Regions from separate parts of the Homo sapiens genome. Here region 1 is linked to region 2. Evidence: fine-mapped expression QTL. A gene starts in region 2. The other region holds a variant in brackets. All regions are shown on one strand. Distances are from middle to middle. Region 1 overlaps ADAM7-AS1 (ADAM7, ADAMDEC1 and ADAM28 antisense RNA 1). Region 2 holds the start of ADAM28 (ADAM metallopeptidase domain 28).

Region 1 (10,971 bases), 69 kb before region 2:
CACTGGATCCGGCAATCCCACTACTGGCTATCTACCCAAAGGAAATGAAGTCATTTTGTGAAGAAGGCACAAGTACATGTGCATGTGCATGTTTATATGTTTATAGCAACACAACTCACAATTGCAAAGATAAAGAACCAACCTAAATGCCTATCAACCAATGAGTGGATAAAGAAAATGTGATGTATGTACACCATGGAACACCACTCCACCATAAAAAGGAATAATGTCTTTTAAAGCAACTTGGATGGAGCTGGAGGCCATTATTCTAAGTGAAGTCACCCAGAAATGGAAAAACCAAATATCCTAGGCTCTTCTAAGTGGGAGCTAAGCTGTGAGGATGCAAAGGCATAAGAATGATATAAGGGACTTGGGGAACTTGGAGGAGGTTAGGAGGGGAGTGAGGGATAAGACAACATATTGGGTACAGTGTACACTGCTCATGTGACAGGTGCATCAAAATCTCAGAAATTACCACTGAAGAACTTATCCATGTAATGAAACATCACCTGTTCCCCAAAAACTACTGTAATAAAAACAAAACATAATAATTTTATTCCAGGTAAAGTCAGAGGCTTTAGCAGTACCACCAGTTAAATATCCTATGTTTAGAATTTGAAAATTCTTTGGATAAACAGTTGACATTACAAACATATATTTTTGAATTTGAATTTTTTATAATCAAATTACTTTTGCTATTTCGGATACTAATTTGCATGAATAATCAAGATCAATACTTACAGCATACAATTAATCTCTTAAGATAATAGTAGGCATAAGATGTTGGTAGCCAACTAGAGCCGAGATATTTCCATTAAATCTTTGTTTCTTAATCAAGAGTATACATTAGATTCATCTCTAGAACTTATTAAAATACTGACATCTTGATTCCTTCCCTCTGTGTTCAGATTTTGTTAGTATAAAGTGGTTGGTATAAATGGTTCTTGATACATTTTGTCAAGAACCATTATTACATGAAGAACTCTTTCAATATTTTTAGAAAATAAAAAATATACATATTACTTTACTCTTATTTCTTTTACTCCATGCTGGATTGATTACAAACAAAATAATTAAAGGATAAGAGAACAAATATTGTAACAAACACCCTACATATACTTTAGTCACCGGAAAAGATCATCCAATATACCTAGGAATTATTCTGTAAGGAAAATACAGTTCCTCAAATAATCAACTGAGAACCTTTAAAAATTATAATTAATGATTAGGCAGTGATAAAACTGTAACCAATGTCACTAAAGCCACTGTGTTTTCAGATACTGAATTCCCTCGAAGGAAAATTTAAAGATGCTATGATCTATATTAAAAAAGTATTTCAAGTATTCTAAAAGTAGGTGAAATAACTTGTTCAGTGATGATATGAATAGGCAAGCTATTACTTGGCTTCCAAACTCATGATATGCAGCTCAGTTAGAAACAATTTTTCCATTACCCTGAGCAGTGCTGAAAGTTATTGATGAAAAGGTTGAGAGGGTGTTCTAATTTGAGCCTATGTCTCGCTTCCTGCTGGGGTTTATTTATGACTGTGTGTGTGACTGCAGTGTGGTTAGGGCAGGCAGCCAAGAGTCTGTAGCCATGAAGTACTGAGGGGCTCCCAGGGTGGGGAATCAAGCAAAAGGTACAGACAGGTTCTCTAGTTGGATACAACAGCAACACCATCCTGAGTACAAATTTTAGGTCTCAGAAGCAAAAAGAGCTGTGCTCAGTCTTTTTTATTTTTATTCACTAGGCTGATTTTGTTGTGTTTATGTGGTTTTGCTGTCTCCCATGATGGTATGTACAGCTCAGTCTTAACCATTAATTTTTATTCACTTGGCTGATTTTGTTGTGTTTATGTGGTTTTGCTGTCTTCCATGATGGTATGTTTGTTCTTTATAGACACTGTGAGTCTCATATAAATCCTGTTTACTTTTCTTGTTTACTTTTTTATTCTTAGATAGTTTGGAGTACAGTTTGGAGCTCATATTTATCAAACACGTAGGGCCGTATATTTTAAATTTCACAAGTCTCATCTGACCCATGGCTTTATGGTTTCTAGAACTTTCTTGCTTTCTGATTTTCTTAAATGTTCATTTTTGGGGGGTGTTATACTTTTCTAAATCTCCTAAGTTTGTGTATGCACAAATATGTATGTATCTTTGATGAAACATGGTATATATAAATACCTAAACGTATTCAAAAATAACAATTTTTGGTTTTCCATAGTCTTGATGATCTGCTTGCAGTTCCCTGAACATGTCATGGCCCTTGTGGATTCATGACTTAGCAAGGCTATTATTTAACTCCGTTATTTTCTAGAAGACTTTTTTTTCTCTTTTTCCTTTATAGATCTGATAAATTGCCTAGAGTTCAAGATTTAAACGGCACCTCCTCTGAGAAACTTCTCATGCCTTCTCTTGATAAACATTTCCTCTGTACTTTCTTGTTCTCATAGTTTAGCAATTTATTTTAGTGATTATTTATTTCTATATTTATGTCAGTCTCTAGAGCTAGGATGAGAATCCCTGGACGGCAGGGAAAGAGGTTAATCCTTCTAGCTCCAGTGTCCACTTAGTAAATGGAGACTTTGTAAATGTTTGTATTGCAGAATTACAGAAAACAACCAGATAAGTGTAAATTACACAATGTATTAAGCTCAGAATCTTGGTGGAAGACTTTTGTTAGTTGATTTATTGAGTGCTTACCATTTCCCAGGCTCTCTGCTAATCACTAGTAACAAGAATGGGGAAAAATGAGAACGGATTTTCAGGAGTAGAAAATCAAGGGGCATAAGATTTGACTGCAGCAGAATGGCTATTACTAAAAAGTCAACAATGGATGATGGCAAAGCTGTGGAGAAAAAGGAATGCTTTTACATTATTGGTGGGAGTATAAATTAGTACAACTGTTGTAAGAGAGGGTGTGGCGATTGCTCAAAGACCTAGAGGCAGAAATACCTTTTGACCCAGCAATCCCATTACTAAGTACATAACCAAAGGAATAGAAATTGTTCTGTTAAAAAGACACATCCACTGTCTGCATTGCAGCACCATTCACAATAGCAAAGACATGGAATCAACCTAAATGCCCATCAGTGATGGACTGGATAAAGAAAATGTGGTATATAAGCAACATGGAATACTATGCAGCCATAAAAAGAAATGAGATCATGTCTTTTGCAGTGACATGGATGGAACTGGAGCACATTATCTTAAGCAAACTAACACAGAAACAGAAAACCAAATATGACATGTTCTCACTTATATGTGGGAGCTAAATGATGAGAACAAATGGACATATGCAGGGGAACAGCAAACACTAGGGCCTGTCAGAGGGGGTTGGGAGGAGGAGAAGATCAGAAAGAATTGCTGATGGATGTTGATCTTAATACCTGGGTGATGGAATGATCTGCAGCAAACCACCATGGCACCTGTTTACTTACCTATGTAACAAACCTGCACATCCTGCACATGTACCTCTGAAGTTAAAATAAAAGTTGGAAATGAAAAAATTAAAAAAAGATTTGACTGCAACTTCAGATACACTTTCACTGGAAACATTGCCTAGAAGAATTTGTTGCTGGAGATAAAATAGAATTCTCATATTTAATAATATAGTATTAAATGTGCTTCTCAGTGCAAAATAGTTTTGCTGCAGACAGTGTGGTTGTGTGAAAGGAAGTAAGATTCCTGTGCAAGACTGTCATAAATGTTAAGTGAAATTATACATGCACACATACGAACACACAAAAATACACACAAACTTGCATAAATCAGAATGTGCTACTGTGTACTTTTGTTATTACCTTATGATATCCTTACTTTAAGAAATAATCAAATTTGAAATTGGCTATGACTTTATTTTCTAAAAATTGTATGAATTCAGTCCATGTTAATTTCCCCAAAATATGAATCCAGGGTCTTTGCACAATGCAGCCTCAGATCTAGGACAGTATTTTATTTGGCCCAGAAGTTCTGACTGAGATTCAACTTAATTATATAAGATGAGAAAACCGAATAGGATTACGGAGAAAATTCTAAAAGCACATCAGGAGAATAAAAGACCAAGGAAAAAAGACTCGGCTGGGCACAGCAGCTCATGCCTGTAATCTCAGCACTTGGGGAGGCTGAGACAGGAGGATGACTTTAGCCCAGGAACTTGAGACCAGCCTGGGAAACAGGGAGACCCTGTCACTAAAAAACATTTAAAAATTAGGCAGGTGTAGTGGTGCATGCCCATAGTTGCAGCTACTCTGGAGGCTGAGGTGAAAGGATCACTTGAGCCCAGAAGGTCGAGGCTGCAGTGAGTCACGACCATGCCACTGCACTTCAGCCTGGGCAACAGAGAGAGATGTTGTCTCAAAAAAAACTCACCAGTGAAATACGTACTCACCAATGAAATATGTACAAACAGCAAGTAATTATTTCCCCAAACCTTACTTTCTGCTTAAAGACATATGATGCAATAGACTGTTCAGAGAGGGTCTCTGTGCTGACAAGCTCAACAACGGAGTCCTCCTTCAGGTAGGCACTGATGGATACGTGCTACTTGCCTTTCTAGATGATGGACATTTCCCTCTCTTCTCTTTATATTTTCATGCTGCCCTTACATGTTTCTTAGAAAATCCTCTTTGGGGCAGGGTGCAGTGGCTCATGCCTGTCATCCCAGCACTTTGGGAGGCCAAGGTGGGTTGATCATGAGGTCAGGAGTTCGAGACCAGCCTGGCCAACATGGTGAAACCCTGCCTCTACTAAAGATACAAAAAATTAGCCAGCCGTGGTGGTGTGTGCCTGTAATCCCAGCTACTCAGGAGGCTGAGGCAGGAGAATTGCTTGAAACCAGGAGGCGGAGGTTGCGGTGAGCCGAGATCACACCATTGCACTCCAGCCTGGGCAACAAGAATAAAATTCTGTCTCAACAAGAACAAAAAAATCCTGTTTGAATATTGGCAAGTCATACATTTTTAATTTCATTTTATAGATGAGTAAATGTACAGATTGTATACTTAAGACTGGTAAAATCAAAGAATTGAAATTATTTGCATAAGGCTAAAGAGCTAGTTTTTGGCAGAGCCAGGAGGACTATCTATACTTTGTTTTCTGTGTGTGGCTTACCATCCTGCACCAAAAACTGACTTTTCTCTTATTCTCTTGTCTTTATATTTCTGCTACATTTTCGTTCCCTTATTTCCTATCTGAGACTGCAGCTTTCCAGTGGATCTACTCAGCCCTGCCATGGGCACAAAAGAACTGAGAGAGTTTTGCCAGGAACTGGCTCCTGCAGGCTCCATTTCAATTATACTTACAACATGTCTCAAGAGACCCACGAATCTCAGAGCTATTCCACAGCAGTTAGAGAGATCAAGGCCAATTTGGCAACACATGTTGATTTACAAGGGAACAGTGTTATCTGCTGAGACATAGCACTTGGCCTGTGCATTGGAGTCTTCTCTATGAGAAATGGAGCAACTTTTGCGGTCCAGCAGTTGATACCTGCTTTCTCAAAAGCTACTGGGACATCAGGAGGGGACCGTTATCTCTAGTCATAGCATCATCATTTCATTTTTCATTTAGATAATTTTCTGAACTTCCTTAAATTGTTGTTCCCATCAGGATTGCACAGCTAAGATTTCAACATTGAGCCATTGTCTGTGCTTGGTCAACTAAGCTTAGAAAGAAACAATGGATGTGGTTCTCATGAAGAAGAGAATAGCAATAACTGATTTAAATGAGGTTCTAAAATACTAGGAATAAAGTATGTATCATTATCCATTTTAAAATAGGTTTGCCATCAAAAAAAATTGTAAATTAAAATGTATAAAGTGGAGAAAAACAATGTTAATTTGAATGATGACATGGAGCAACAGAAATTATCTCCAGCCCTCTCAAATAGAAAATAAATATATTAAAAGATGATTAGGTTATTTAGCCTTAAAAATAAATGAAATGCTGATAC[G/A]TGCTACAATATGGATGAAACTTGAAGACATGGTGCAAAGTGAAATAAGTCAGACACATAGATGGAAAAATACTGTATAATTCCATTGATAGGAGCTACCTAGAATAGGCAAATTCAGAGACAGAAAGTGGAGTAGAGGTTACCAGAGATTGAGGGGAAAACATAACGGGGATTTATTGTTTAATGGATATAGAGTTTCTGTTTGGAATGACGAATGGGTCCTGGAAATAGATGGTGGTGGTGGTTGCACAGCACAATGAATGTACTTATGTCACCAAATTGTATTCTTAAGACTGGTTAAAATGGTAAATTCAATGTCATATATATTTTACCACAATAAAACATAATATTTGAGTTAAAACAAAGGATTTTAGGTAGCTGAAGGACTCGACATGAGGACTGGAGAACCAAACTTGGTAGCTATGCAATGAGGAATTCCAGCCTGTATCGTGGAGCTGAATAATACAGAATGTCTGTCTCACCCTTGCCAGTCACTCAGCTGACACTGCTGATACTCCTTGCACTAGACCAGCCTTGAACCAGCAATTGGCACTAGTCTCAAGACTTCCTGAGGAACTCAACCTTATTATAACAGTGTGCATCACCAAAGATAATTCTCTGTAATTTCTGCTTTATATTACATACTTCTGATTCAAAGTTCTGGGAGGGTACATCTGAAAGGTAGATCCTTGGCCATAACTATGTCATAGGTGCAAAAGAGGGTTGGCCAGGCACTGTAGCTCAAGCCTGGAATCCCAGTACTTTGGAAATCCAAGGCAGGCAGATCACTTGAACCCAGGAGTTCAAGACCAGCCTGGGCAACATGGCAAGACCCCTTCTCTACAATAAATACAAAAATTAGAGTGTGGTGGTGCATGCCTATGGTTCCAGCTACTTTGGAGGCTGAGGTAGGAGGATTGCTTGAGCCTGGGAGGTTGAAATCACAGTGAGCCAAGATCATGCCACTGCACTCCAACCTGGTGCAAGAGAGGAGAGCAAGACCCTGTCTCCAGGAAAAAATAAAAAGAATCTGGTAACAACATGCAGAATATTTCCAGTTGCCACTGCAAATAGCAAAGGAGCTATATCTCCAAGATGTGCAATGTGGGAATCCTCTAAGCAAGGAAAGGTGTTAAGATAGGCAGGTATTAAGAATGAGAATGCCTATGTGGAAACAGTTTCATAAATTGCTAATGGAAATTTAAATTCATACATATTCCTACTAGAGAAAAATTTTTGCAAAGTGTAGCAAAAAAGTTGGAAAACTTTTAGGGGGCTAGCCAACATATAGAGTACTATCCAAAGGAAATAAGAAGTAATAAACGTTGGGTGTTGTGGATCACATGTGTAATCCCAGTGACTTGGAAGGCTGAGTCAAGAGGATTGTTGAGTCTAGGACTTGGAGACCAGTCTGAGCAATGCAATGAAACCCAGACTCAAAGAAAAAATAGGCCTTGTTTTGGGCTGCACAGGTCGCCATTAAGCACAGAAGAACTTATCCCCCAATTGTTGGCTGTGCTACCTGCAGACAGCCATCAACTTGCCTTGGAAAATGCTTTCACTAAATAAAGTCATCTTGCCCAAGGTCACAGCTCTTTTGAGAGCAATTTGTACCTGGAAAATGCTTTCACTAAATAAAGTCATCTTGCCCAAGGTCACAGCTCTTTTGAGAGCAATTTGTACCTGTGACTAGTTGACATGAGGGAGTAAAAGCTTTTCCCTTTTGCCTCAACTTGGCTTCATTCTGAAGGATAGCCCAGGTTCAGGGCTGGCTGGGCCAGCTAAAGCCTTCTTTGAGGCAGCATCATTCCCAACTCCTCCAGCCTAATCCTGCTTTCTCCCATTCCATTAAACAAATAGGGGACCTGACCTGAAAGCCCTCCATAATAAACTTCCTGGCTGCTAAAATCCATCTCAGATTCTGCTTGCCCAGGAACCCGAACTGTGATACAGAGAACTGCCTTTAGATGGTATATACACCATTGTTCATCACTGCATTATTTTAGCCATAAACATTTTTGAAAAAAGATTTCATTGTTGAATCAGATATTAAGTAAAACATTATTCATTAATAAAATAGTATTGATGGCTGCATAATATTCTTATAGATTTGTGTCATATTACTAAGTAAAATTAAAAGCCATAATACAAATAGCATAAATATTGAATTAATACTTAACTTATATACCAGACAGAAAAGAGAGGAAAAGGTCATATTTCCAAGTGTTGATTGAAATCATACTTGGTGAGATTAGGAAAAATTTTTGTCTTAGTACTTTCTCTTGTTTCTCAACCTTTCTATATTAAGCATATATTGTTTTTTAAATTTTTTAAAAATTATACTTTCAGTTCTGGGATACATGTGCAGAATGTGAAGGTTTGTTACTATAGGTATACATGTGCCATGGTGGTTGGCTGCACCCACCCACCCATCATCTACATTAGGTATTTCTCATAATGCTATCCCTCCCCTACTCCCCCACCCCGCAACAGGCCCCGGTATGTGATGTTCCTCTCCCTGGGTCCGTGTGTTCTCATTGTTCAACTCCCACTTATAAGTGAGAACATGTGGTGTTTGGTTTTCTGTTCCTCTGTTAGTTTGCTGACAATGATGGTTTTCATGTCCCTGCATAGGACGTGAACTCATCCTTTTTTATGGCTGTGTGGTATTTCATGGTGTATATGTGCCAAATTTTCTTTATCTAGTGTATCATTCATGGGCACTTGGGTTGGTTCTAAGTCTTTGCTTTGTGAACAGTATCACAATAAACATACGTGTGCATATGTCTTTATAGTAGAATGATTTACAATCCTTTGGGTATAAACCCAGTAATGGGATTGCTTGGTCAAATGGTATTTCTGGTTCTAGAACCTTAATGAATTGCCATATTGTCTTTCACAATGGTTGAACTAATTTACACTCCCAACAGTGTAAAAGTGTTCCTGTTTCTCCACATCCTCTCCAGCATCTGTTGTTTTCCTGACTTTTTAAGGATCACCATTCTAACTGGCATGAGATTGTATCTCATCGTGGTTTTAATTTGCGTTTCTCAAATGACCAGTGATGATGAGCTTTTTTTCATAGTTTGTTGGCTGCATAAATATCTTTTTTTGAAAAGTGTCTGTTCATATCCTTCACCTACTTTTTGATGGGGGATTTTTTTTTTCTTGTAAATTTAAGTTCTTTGTAGATTCTGGATATTAGCCCTTTGTCAGATGGATAGATTGCAAAAATTGTCTCCCATTTTGTAGGTTGCCTGTTCACTCTGATAGTTTCTTTTGCTGTGCAGAAGCTCTTTAGTTTAATTAGATCCCATTTGTCAATGTTGGCGTCTGTTGCCATTGCTTTTGGTGTTTTAGTCATGAAGTCTTTGCCCATGCCTATGTCCTGAATGGTATTGCCTAGGTTTACTTCTGGAGTTATGGTTTTAGGTCTTACGTCTGAGTCTTTGATCCATCTTGAGTTAATTTTTGTATAAGGTGTAAGGAAAGGGTCCAGTTTCAGTTTTCTGCATATGGCTAGCCAGTTTTCCCAACACCATTTATTAAATAGGGAATCCTTTACACATTGCTTGTTTTTGTCAGGTTTGTCAAAGATCAGATGGTTGGAGATGTCTGGTGTTACTTCTGAGGCCTCTGTTCTGTTCCATTGGTTTGTCTCTCTGTTTTGGTACCAGTACCATGCTGCTTTGGTTACTGTAGCCTTGTAGTATTGTTTGAAGTCAGGTAGTGTGATGCCTCCAGCTTTGTTCTTTTTGCTTTTTTTTTTTTTTTTTGGGTGGAGTCAGTCTTGCTCTGTCACCCAGGCTAGAGTGCGGTGGTACGATCTTGGCTCACTGAAACCTCTGTGCCCTGGGTTCAAGTGATTCTCCTGCCTCAGCCTCCTGAGAGCTGGGATTACAGGTGCCCGCCATCCTGCCTGGCTAATTTTTGTATTATTGGTAGAGATGAGGTTTCATCAACTTGGCCAGGCTGGTCTCGAACTCCTGACCCTCGTGATCCACCCACCTCAGCCTCCCAAAGTGCTGGGATTATAGGCATCAGCCACTGTGCCTGACCAAGCATACATCTTTTTACAGAAGAAAATTAAATAAGTATTTTATATTTGTGATTTGTCCAGATTTTAAAATAACATTGTCAAACTATTTAAAGTAACAAATAGTTTTAACTTTGTGTGAGGTGGGAGCAACATAAACGACTTAGTCATCTTAGTCATTTAATATTGAGATGTCAGATATATCCCAAGAGTATGGACTTTAATATGAGGTGAAGGAGATAAACCGTTTAATGTTCACAAGAAGTTGCCTTCACAATAAATTGTATACCGTAATTTTCATGCTTAGGATTTTTTTTATAACAATAGTATTCGCTTAGCATACTACTAACAGTAATAGTGATACTGTATTAAGTGTTGGGCATTGTAGCAGACCACCCAGGCCTAGTTGCTAAAAAGTGCCTAACATTGTCAAGGGAAAGCCTTTTTATGGAAGCAGCAAAAGAGACAAAGTGAATTCAAGGGCAGATGTGCCAACGTGGCTACAGATTTTGTTAGAGGTGTTTTCTCCTGAGTTGGGATCTTCCCTGACAAGGTGGAGCTCAGTATCTCCACACAGCTGTGCCACTCTTGGCTTGGCCCACTTTGGAGAAAAAAAATTGAGGAGAAAAGAATATGCAAGACTTGCTTATCACCCCAACCATTTCCATATTTTTCCATATTACATCCAGATGCTAGTGTATGCAAATTATTTAGCTTACGCTCAAGAGATGGATTCTTTGAACAATGACATATGATGAAACAATATTAAAGCTGATAATAATATTGGATGCACCAACTGAAAAATAGCAATATAACACTTAGGAAATAATGGTGTCTTTGAATGATGGGGAACATACTAGTCAAGTGGCTGAGAAAGCATGTACTTCTGAAAAATATTTACTGTGGGAAGCAGTAATAAAGTTTATACACATTTTGCTTTAATTTTTAAAATATCTGGAAATATAAGTTAAAAACAGTTA
Region 2 (10,971 bases):
TAACCTTGGACAGTTTCTTTCACTTCTCAGAAACTTGATTTGTAGAATGAGGTTAATAATATAACTTTGGGTTATAGTGAAGATTTTTTAAAAGGTCAAAAACAAATACAAATATAATCATTGTTATTTAACTCCAAGGTGTAATTGCTGAAAACATCACAAATTCCACTTGAAACACACAGGCACACACATACACACACACACATATATAAACATACATGTATAAATCCCATATCTATCTCTCATCATAGATAGATATATATATGTGTGTATATATGTATCTCAAATCAAGATCCTTTGATAAATCAAAAGCTGTACCTGTTGCTCTGGCTCTTTGGCCTCTCTTTTATGCAGTGGATGAAGTCTTATAGGATAAACCACTTCATACTTCTTCACCCCAGGGAGTTCTTTTATAGCACTTACTGAGAAAAAAGAAAAAGAAAAGACTTATCCAGGTAGAACTGAAGTAGGCTGGTCAGTAAAGGCCATCCTTACTGCATTCCCAATGAACGATGCCACACACAGAAGCCTGAAGTGATGAATGTCAGAGTGATTAATGTGCTGACACCAGAAGAGAGCAACAACCTCAGAAAGCTACTCTTTCCTCTTAAAGTTTTACTTTAGCCTATATCTTCAGATCCTTCCCCACTAAAAGTTTACAGGTGTTACTGTATTTAGAGAAAGTATTTCTTTTGGATTTTCCCACTTCTTATCTTTGATCCTGCAGTGCAGGGAAATAGCAACAGCTCAGGCAAAAAGAAGTGAAGATAGAAGCGAAAGTAATCCTCTGAGAAGCGAATCAGTCCCAGAAAAATTGGGTTGAAGCACTGGAAACCATACAATGTTAGAAAAATAAAATAACTAATGTGCACAATTTTTATTCTATTTTTCTTGGATTTGAAAACAGCAATATTCTATACTAATAAAAAAAAACTATGTCACAGTAAGAAAAGGCTCCAATACTAGGTTCATAGAATGAGCTGGCATAAGCAGTACAGAAAAACCTTATTTTTGCATACAGAACATTTAAAAAATGAAAATTAGAGAAGCAGATAATTCAAACAGAATCACTGGCCTGGAAGGACTTTTTTGAGCCTGCAGTCATATTGAAAGAGAACTGAAAAGTGATTTGATCCAACCTATCTGCATTTTAAATGCTCCTCTCCATGTTGTCTTTAGAAGTCATTTTGTTTTATTGTATTTTGAGACAATGTCTCACTCTGTCACCAAGCTGGAGTGCAGAGGCACAAACAGGGTTCACTGCAGCCTCAACATCCTGGGCTCAAGCCATCCTTCCACCTCAGCCTCCAGAGTAGCTGGGACTGCAGGTGTGCACCACCATGCCTGGCTTTTTTTTTTTTTTTCTATTAGAGAAGTAGTCTTGCTATGTTGCCCAGGCTGGTCTTGAAATCCCAGGCTGTAGCAATCCTCCTGGCTCGGCCTCCCAAAGTGCTGGGATTACAGGTATGAGCCACAGCACCTGGCCTAGAAGTCATTTTGGAGAGAGAGATTCAATTTTCTCGAAGCTAACATTAGATTTTCTATTTTCTTTTTGATTTGCCCATGTGGTCTAGTCTCTGCTCTGTATATAGTCGATAGACCTGCTCCTTAGCTGCTACAGGTGGCTACAGGCTTAACCAAAATGTAGACTGCAGTAGCAGAATGGGGCCTAACTCTACAACTTTCTAAGACTAAAACTGAAAAGGTTTTTTTCTCTTCTCTGAGTAAGGACTAGGAGGGTCTCTAAAGGTAATGCCAGCTCATTAAAGTACTCAAATCTTAAGTTCTATGGTGAGATACATTTATGTTACTGTGGTTGATCTTTTAACAAACATAGATGAGGCACTTAATAAGTATTATTCCTTGCTTATCTAGGAGGACTGTGCACTTACTCCAGTCACTTCCCACAGAGCAAAACATTGTTTAAAGTTTTCTTCAGAAACTAAAGCATAAACTTTCAAAAAACAGCGTTTTTTAAAAATTACTCGAGAATGACTTTAATTCATTTAACGACTCAAGAGTCACTTACATTTAACTTTGAAGAACAGAAAAAGGGTTTAAACCAGCTAAGAACTCTTTGAGTCAAAAATGGGGTGTTAAAGTAATGAACTATCTTTTCTTTCAGTGGTGTAAGAGTTACTCTAAAAAAAAATTCAAAATTACTTAAAGCCATGGCACTGACATTAGAATACCTTATTTTTTTTATTTGGTTTGAGTCTTTAAATAGTTTGAAAAAAGGACGCCAATTAAATGGTTTCTAAAGCTAGTTCAAGTGGTTTATGATTTATGCATACAAGTACAGAATCCCCTATAACCTCTTTCAAGAGTCAGTGATCATTAGGATAACTGAATTCTGATCCAATGTGATAAAATAAGCCTCATTACATTGTCACACTTCAAGAACAACATCACGGGGTTCTTCAGTTCCTCATTTCTTGCTGTCACAGAGGTAATCGCTGGGCGTCTTTTATTTCTATTAAATTAACTTTTGGTAAAGGAAAAGAATAACATCAATTATAAAAAATTTTTGAAACATAAGTTCAAAAACCTAAAGAAAAATTGATGATTCTTTTTCTGAGTTAAAATTTTTCTAATTATTGTAATTATTTTGAAACACTAAGATGCCAAGAGGTAAGAAAATTACTCCTGCCAGAAATTAACTGATGATATTGACACAATTCCCTGCTGCCTCCTTAATTCAGGGACACAAAACAAGCATACCATAAGGCACCCACGTGCTGCCTGGTACATTACAGTAGCTAATCAATGCAATTAGTCTTGTTAAGATAGAGAGTTCAAGAAGCCAAATTTCACCAATGTTGCAGCCAACATAAATCTTTTTAAATGCTATATTAGAACACACATGATTCTAACAGGAAATAGTAGTCCAAGCTGCCTTCGTGGAATAAAATAATAGCTACGTTCCCGATTTTTTGTATAAAAGCAGAAAATGAAGTGAGTTTCCTTCTCAGCACCATTCAGAAATGGTAAGAAGGAAAACAGGCTCATCTAGCCAACACAAATTTTCTCTCACATGCACCCTGACCTCTATGCTTCTAGTTAGTATCTGAATCCCAATGTTTCATGAAATTAGAAATTGCAAACTGGCTCTTAAATATGGGCTTAAAATATGTAAGTTATGTAATTTATTTCCAACTTTTTGGTGGCCGAACACTTCCAAATGGAAACCAAAAACAAAGCAAAATAAAACAAACAACAACAACAACAAAAAAAAACCCACAACATTTCTTTTAGAAATCATTGGCAACCTCTCAATCTCTTCAGTTTGAAGTGAATGGAATTCCAGCTCCTTCCAAACTCCTGTCACTCCATATATTCTCTAAAGAAACTAAATGGAATTTCTCTTAAAGGCTCTTATTTTCTGGAAACCTAGAAGTCCCTGAAATAATGGGATCTGGAATACAACAAATTACACAGCCATTGTAGGGATGTAACAGACCTAAATATTGTTTAGCTCATCCATCCTTAAGTTTAATGGAAATGGTGCAGCGTCTTCCCCACTGAATAACATCACGTTAATTATTTTTGAAGCCTGAGGAACAAACACAACTAACTGCCATCCAGGGATTACACAAATCCAAGGTGTAACACAATATGTTTTTACTAATTCATTTTAATACTTGCCTTCTCTCTCCCACAGAACTCACACACTGGATTAGTCTTGACTAGCAAAACCAGATCAGGAAAAAGAAAACTGTTATTTTGGTTTAGATGGGATAATTATTTTTGACTGTTTTGAGTCTTAGAAAAGCCAAAGCTCATTAACAACGTTAATATGAGAGACATTAGTCTGGATTGCTACATTATTTGTTCATGTGTTTGGGGTCATTTTGGAAATGGGAACATGAGTATGTAATATTGACATTTTCATTTTCGTTCAAATGTGTTTGAAACTGTTCAAAGAAATGTCTTCTTTCCAAACTGAACACATCATATTAAACGCTGAATTAGGGTTTACACAAGGATATTGACTTATGTCCTGGGATTCTCTGCATCTCCTCAAACCATCTTGTGGTTTTAAACTTCATGCATTAAAAGTGAGTACAAACAAAAGGGAAAAAACTGCATTTCTATTAGGTCTGTTATTTTGACTATTTAGATTAAACTGTATATTTTCTTTTCAGTCTTCCAGTTACCTTATAAAGGCAAGGAAGAACTGGTAGTTTGAAATAAAATAATTTCAAAAAGTGCTGTACCCCCTGAGTATTCTGCTGTAATAAGGTAAGCACCTTTCTCCTTTGTTGATGCAATCATTTACATCTTCACCCCGCAAACACCTGTCACATCCTTTTAAATATTTGTTTTTCCTTTTCCTAGGATGAAATCCCATAAGTCAATTTTTTCTCGGGATTGTGAAGTTCACTGCACACAACCAGCCTTATTTTACATCTCTTTCTTTTATTTCAACCATCTGGGGACTGGGCAGAAGTCATGGTCAGAGGGGCACATATGTATTGCTTTGATGATGGGGGCAGAGAACAAACAGGAAGAACTGGGAAATGAAAATTGCTTTACTTCTTATATTCTGACTAGAAAGGCAACCCAAATGGGAATCATAACAGGGATAGTTCAGTGGCAAAAAGACACCCTTAAAAATAGAAGCTAGAAGTTAAAGGAGGGGTGACATCACACTTTTAGAGTTGACATCAGAGGAAGTTGCATCTCTTGGTGCCATGTTATACATGCACCGTCGGGGCAGCAGAACTGATTAGTGTGCCCAGTTGCACAAAAGGACTGTAATGTGCATGGGCCCCAGTGTTAGCCATGTGACTCTGTTAATGGATCCAGCTTGATCTTTACGCTCTTCAACTAAGCTAGTGCCCAAGCAGTTCTTGTATTTCAGCTTAGAGGGGGTTCTGGAAAAGCTCTTGGTGATAGCATTTTTGGAGAACGGAGAGAAAAAAACATTTCTATTAAGTCTGCCTCAAAAAGTAGGAATTTCAGGTCAATGTTAAATGCCTGGCATGAGTTTTATATATATTTTTAATATTTCAGGCTTATTTTACCAAAAGAAAGCTGGTGTAACACGTTCACATCAGACAAAATAGGTATCAAAGCAAAAGGCATTAGAGATGAAGAGGATCACAGCACAGTGGGAAAAGGTTCAGTTCAGATATAGGTACATATTATATAAAGCAAAAATACACAGAAACAAAAGGAAAATAATTCGATATTTAAAGATATTAGGTTAAGTGAAATTTTTATAAGTCTTGAAAACAAATCAGAAACAGGTGAGACACAGGAAAATCATTTTTAGCAACAAAGTACTAAGAGGGTGCATGGACAAGGAAAACTTTTCCCTCCCTAAGCCCATACCTCTAGTTGATAATCTGTTCCCATCCCCAGGTCCCAGCAAACATTCTAAGACCCAAGAACAGGTTTACTGGGAGGAATTCGAGGCACTGCAGTTCATGTGCTGAGTTAAATAAGCTCTGGAAATAGAAGCTGAAGAATCACAATACCCAATCTAATTTAACCAAAGTCTAATTAGAGAATTTACCAGAAATTGAGAGACTTGCTAGACATAATTTCCTGTTAGGAAGTAGTATTTTTCTCCTTTCAAATTTTTAAATGTTTGGTATAATCAGCAAAATAGAAGTAAATTATCAATTTAAGCTTAACAGAGATATTTTGTTAAGTAATATCACAGTACCTTATAAATAAAAAATATTAATTATTTCCAGTTAGTCACACGTATTATTACTAATAATGAGTAAATACAAAAATATACACTCAAACAGAAAGAGCCAAACTGGCTCCCATAATAATAGTAGGTATTTTCCTAAGCCTTGTACACAGTAATAAATAAATAAATCTGCCACATCTTTACCATTCTTTAAATGACAAGCTGGGTTTTGATGAATTCCACTTTTTCAGTCAAAAATCATATTCATGATTTAAATTGTGCTGTATGAAATTGTCCCTTTTATTTCTGTATATTCTCAGATGAGATGCATACATATTGGTTCAAGACCTCTTGTTGCCTCTTTTTAACATTGTCTTTGTATCACTCGCAGCCCCCAAACAACAGGTTAAAACCAGCCCAACTGGTTAGTAAGATTGATTGAGAAAAAAGAAAAAGAAAAAAGTCAAAATAGTTTATACAATAAAACTATTAGGAGACTATGAAAAGTTCGCTAATGCATTCAATAGAACCTGAAAAAGAGCTAAATATGTACCTGCAACAGAGAGGAGGAGACTGACTGGCAGGAGACCTTGCAACATGCTGGGTGATTCCAGGAGCACGGTGTCTGCTCTTCTCGCTCAGGTGGGTGCTGCTGGGTCTGTCCCTGCCTCCTCTCCAGTGAGACAGAATGAAACTCCCTGGTTCATTCTTGTCTCTGATTCAGGAAGTGTTTACTAAAGGTGTTGCGCAACCTCGAAGCTGTGGTCCTGCAACAATGGCCCAGCAGGCGGAAGTCCTGGCTGCCTCCTGGCTCTAAGATTACTTGATCTGAACTATTGTTTTGCTCTCCTTTGCCATACTCCCCACTCCAAAGTAGTACATTTCCAACATATTACTATAGCCAGATAAGCTACAAGGAAAGAGGCAACTGCATTAATGAGTCTTGAAAAACATGCTAGACATTTATTTACATTACGGATATGATATATAAATATATGTTTAAATATATTTTTATATATATACAGTTGTAGGAAAAAAGTTATTAAGAATGTTATTTTTCCCCCACATACATAATGTGGTTATGTAAAGCAATTTCTAATTCAACCTAATTACTATATAGCATTCTCTTTTCCATTATTTTATGTTCTATTCCTCACACAAGTGTACTCTCAGGAAGTTTGAACTATCCTGAAATAAGAATGTCTGACAATATAAGCACAATAATTTTTAGATCCTTGGGGGTATTTGTGTCATAACTGGCAATGAGGAGTGTGGAAGAAGGATTCAAGACCCAAAGGATACAATTTTAGGATCTGTCACTGGTGGTAGTAAGGCTAAACTGGGCATGTCTAAAAATCATACTTATAACCAATAAAATAACTAATATCAACTGAGCTGCTTATTAAGTTTTAGGTACTGATAGGGTTTGGTTGTGTCCCTACCTGAATCTCATCTTGAATTGTAGCTCCCATAATCCCCATGTGTTGTGGGAGGGACCCAGTGGGAGATAATTGAATCAAGGGGCGGGCTTTTCCCATGCTGTTCTCATTATAGTGAATAAGTCTCATAAGATCTAATGATTTTATAAAGGGCAGTTCCCCTGCTCAGGCTCTCTTTGCCTGCCTCCATGTAAGATGTGTCTTTGCTCCTCCTTCACCTTCTACCATGAGAGTGAGGCCTCCCCAGCCATGTGAAACTGTGAGGCCATGAAACCTCTTTTTAATTTACCCAGTCTCAGATATTTCTTCGTGATAGTATGAAAATGGACTAATACAGGTACTCTCCTAAATCTACTGTACTTGTTATTTTATTAGTCTTTATGATACTCATGTATTATGCATTTACAATCATTTTGCAGGTGAAAATTTGGGGTTTTAAAGGCAAAATTCAAAAGATTAAGAATCAGTTGTCCCCTCATTGTATAGATTAAGAAGATTAAGCAGATAAAGTCACCTATCCAGTAAGTGGTAGAAGTGGAATCTGAACTATGTGTTGTCTGGGCTCTTAGTCATATACTCTAATGCTTTCCCTTGGCTTAGCTGACTTGTACTCCCAGTATCATTTCTATTGAAAAGATTCTGGGAGAATAGAAATAATTATGAAATTCCTAAGGAATAGAAATTACGCTGAGGACCAGTTATTACCACAAAACCTAGTCCTAGTCCACTAAAATCATGCATCATTTTACAGATTCTGAAACACATTCTCATACTAGAGGGATTACAGTGATTATTGATGTCTCCAAATGATTATACAGTCATCAACTAAAACCACAAAGGAATTTTTGAGTCTAGTTACTGAGCATTTTAACCATCAGGATTGCGATTCACAGATTTCTTGCCTTTTCAACCCAAGTTCCATTGCTTTGTCTTTTCCAGGGAACAGAAAGGATACTTCAACTTTTAATTATTACATATTTTTTCTCCATTAATTCAACGTAATTTTACTTACAGCTATTATGTGTCAGACACTGAGATTGCAGTTGAAAAAACACAATCATGGCCGGGAGTGGTGGCTCATGTCTGTAATCCCAGCACTTTGGGAGGCTGAGGCAGACAGACTACCTGAGATCAGAATTTGAGACCAGCCTGCCCAACATGGTGAAACCCCATCTCTACTAAAAAAAAAAAATTAGCTGGGTGTGGTGGTGGTCACCTGTAATCCCAGTTACTCAGGAGGCTGAGGTAGGAGAACTGCTTGATTGCTTGAACCCAGGAGGCAGAGGCTGCAGCGAGCTGAGATTGCAACAACACACTCCAGCCTGGGCAACAGAGCGAGACAGTGTCTCAAACAAACAAACAAACAAAAAACACAATCACTTTCATTGAGATGTTCACAATCTGACAAAGATAAGTTCAATTACCATAAAATTGCACAGAGTGAGTACCACCTATAAATGATCACAATATCACAAGGTGTTTAGTGTTACAATAGATTTATCAATAGAAGTCAGAGGTCTACACCAAACAGGGCAGGGAGTGCATCCTGGTGGCAGGAGTCCTGGGAAAAGGACTCCCTATTTCATAAATGGTGCTGGGATAGCTGGCTAGCCATATGCAGAAGAATAAAACTGGACCCCTACCTTACACCATATACAAAAATTAACTCAAGATGGATTAAAGATTTAAATGTAAGACCTCAAATTATGGAAAACCTAGAAAATGACATTCTGGACATTGGCCCTAGGAAACAATTTATAACTTAAGTCCTCAAAAGCAATTGCAATGAAAACAAAAATGGATGAGTGGGACCTAATTAAATTAAAGAGCTTCTGTAGAGCAAAAAGAAACTATCAGCAGAGCAAACCAACAACCTACATAACGGGTGAAAATATGAGCAAACTACACAGCTGACAAAAGTCTAATATCCAGAATCTATAAAGAACTTAAACAATTGAACAAGCATGAGATAAGTAACCTCATTTAAAAATGGGCAAAAGGGTGGGTGCAGTGGCTCATGCCTGTAATCCTAGCACTCTGGGAGGCCAAGGTGGGCAGATCACCTGAAGTCAAGAGTTCGAGACTAGTCTAGCCAACATAGTGAAACCCCATCTCTATTAAAAATACAAAAATTAGCCACGTGTGGTAGGCACCTGTAGTCCCAGCTACTTGGGAGGCTGAGGCAGGAGAATCACTTGAACCCGGAGGAGGAGGTTGCAGTGAACCAAGACTGCGCCACTGCACTCCAGCCTGGGTGACAGAGCAAGACTCCGTCTCAAAAAAAAAGAAAAAAAAAAAAAAAAAGGGTCAAAAGAAATGAACAGACACTTCTCAAAAGAAGAAATACAAGCAGTTAAAAAAACATGTGAAAAAATTGCCCAACATAACTAATTATCAGAGAAATGCAAATCAAAACAATGAGGTACCAACTCACACCAGCCAAAATGGCTATTACTAAAAAGTCAAAAAATAACAAATGCTGGTGAGGCCACAGAGAAAAGGAAACACACAATGTTGGTAGGAATGTAAATTAGTTCAGCCACTCTGGAAAGCAGTTTGGAGATTTCTCAAAGAAATTAAAACAGAACTGTCATTTGACCGAACAATCCGTTTACTGGATATATAGCCAAAAGAAAATAAATTATTCTACCGAGAAGACACATGCTTATGTTCATCACAGTACTATCCACAAGAGCAATGACATGGAATCAAGCTAGGTGCCCATCAGTGGTGGAATGGATAAATACAATGTGGTACATATATACCTTGGAATACTATGCAGCTATAAAAAAGAATTAAATTGTGTTCTTTGCAGCACATGGATCACCTAGAGGCCATTAACCTAAGTGAATTAATGCAGAAACAGAAAACCGGTACCTTACACCATATACAAAAATTAACTCAAGATGGATTAAAGATTTAAATGTCAGACCTCAAACTATGGAAAACCTAGGAAATGACATTCTGGACATTGGCCCTGGAAACAATTTATGACTTAAGTCCTCAAAAGCAATTGCAATGAAAACAAAAATGGACAAGTGGGACCTAATTAAATTAAAGAGCTTCTGTACAGCAAAAAGAAACTATCAGCAGAGCAAACCAACAACCTACATAACGGGCGAAAATATAAGCAAACTGCACAGCTGACAAAAGTCTAATATCCAAAATCTATAAATACTGCATGTTCTCAATTATACATGGGAGCTAAACGCTGTGTACCCATGGACATAAAGATGACAACAATAGACACTGGGTACTGCTGGAGAAGGGAGGGAAGAGGGGAAAAGGCTGAAAACCTAGCTATTGGATACTATGCTGAGTACCCGGGTGGCAGGATTATTTGTACCCTAAACCTCAGCATCACGGAATATATCCATGTAACAGATGGATATGTACCTCCTTGAATCTAAAATAAAAGTTGGAAAAAAAGAATTATGAGAATAAATAAGGACAATATATTATAGCACATTAGTTTATGGCTGGTAGTGTTTGGAATTGTTGGAGCAAAGAATGCCTGAGAGAATGGGAAGATATCCTGCTAAGTATTTGTGCTTGACTTTGACGCTGTGGTGAATGGTCACCACTGATGGGATCGAATGAGAAGTATAACCTTCCTGCTTGCTTCTTGAGGAGGGGAGTGCCCTGGAAATGGTGAATGATGACAGTCTGCATGCTGATCCATGTGGAATTTTAAATTGGCACTTGTTCTTCGGCTCTTTTCAATTCTCTTGTAGTCGTGACATGCCTTTGATCAGTTTGTTCCAGTTATCATTCTCATAATTTTTCATCATTCTTCATAGCCCAGAGTTATAATTCCCTTTACTGTCAAAGAATTTATACCAATCTCTAAATGAATTTTATTTTCTGCTTCCCTGGTTATTTCCT

What was found. PIP is the estimated chance that this variant, and not a neighbour inherited with it, causes the effect.
Region 1: its variant is fine-mapped to the expression of ADAM28 in whole blood (TOPMed, PIP 0.99).

Annotation. Positions count from the first base shown.
Region 1 is chr8:24,358,085-24,369,055 of GRCh38, reverse strand. The region is part of intron 3 of ADAM7-AS1 (ADAM7, ADAMDEC1 and ADAM28 antisense RNA 1); the gene reads left to right. ADAM28 (ADAM metallopeptidase domain 28) reads right to left here. Exons shown (of 23, transcript NM_014265.6): 23 at 10,042-10,971. Among named protein-coding and RNA genes, the nearest start is that of ADAMDEC1, 21 kb to the left of the region's middle. The variant G/A (reference allele first, on the strand shown) is at 5,956.
Region 2 is chr8:24,289,425-24,300,395 of GRCh38, reverse strand. It overlaps ADAM28 (ADAM metallopeptidase domain 28), which reads right to left and starts at 6,327. Exons shown (of 23, transcript NM_014265.6): 1 at 6,201-6,327; 2 at 319-422. The coding sequence starts at 6,246. It overlaps ADAM7-AS1 (ADAM7, ADAMDEC1 and ADAM28 antisense RNA 1), which reads left to right. Exons shown (of 6, transcript NR_125808.1): 5 at 4,146-4,242; 6 at 4,339-4,582.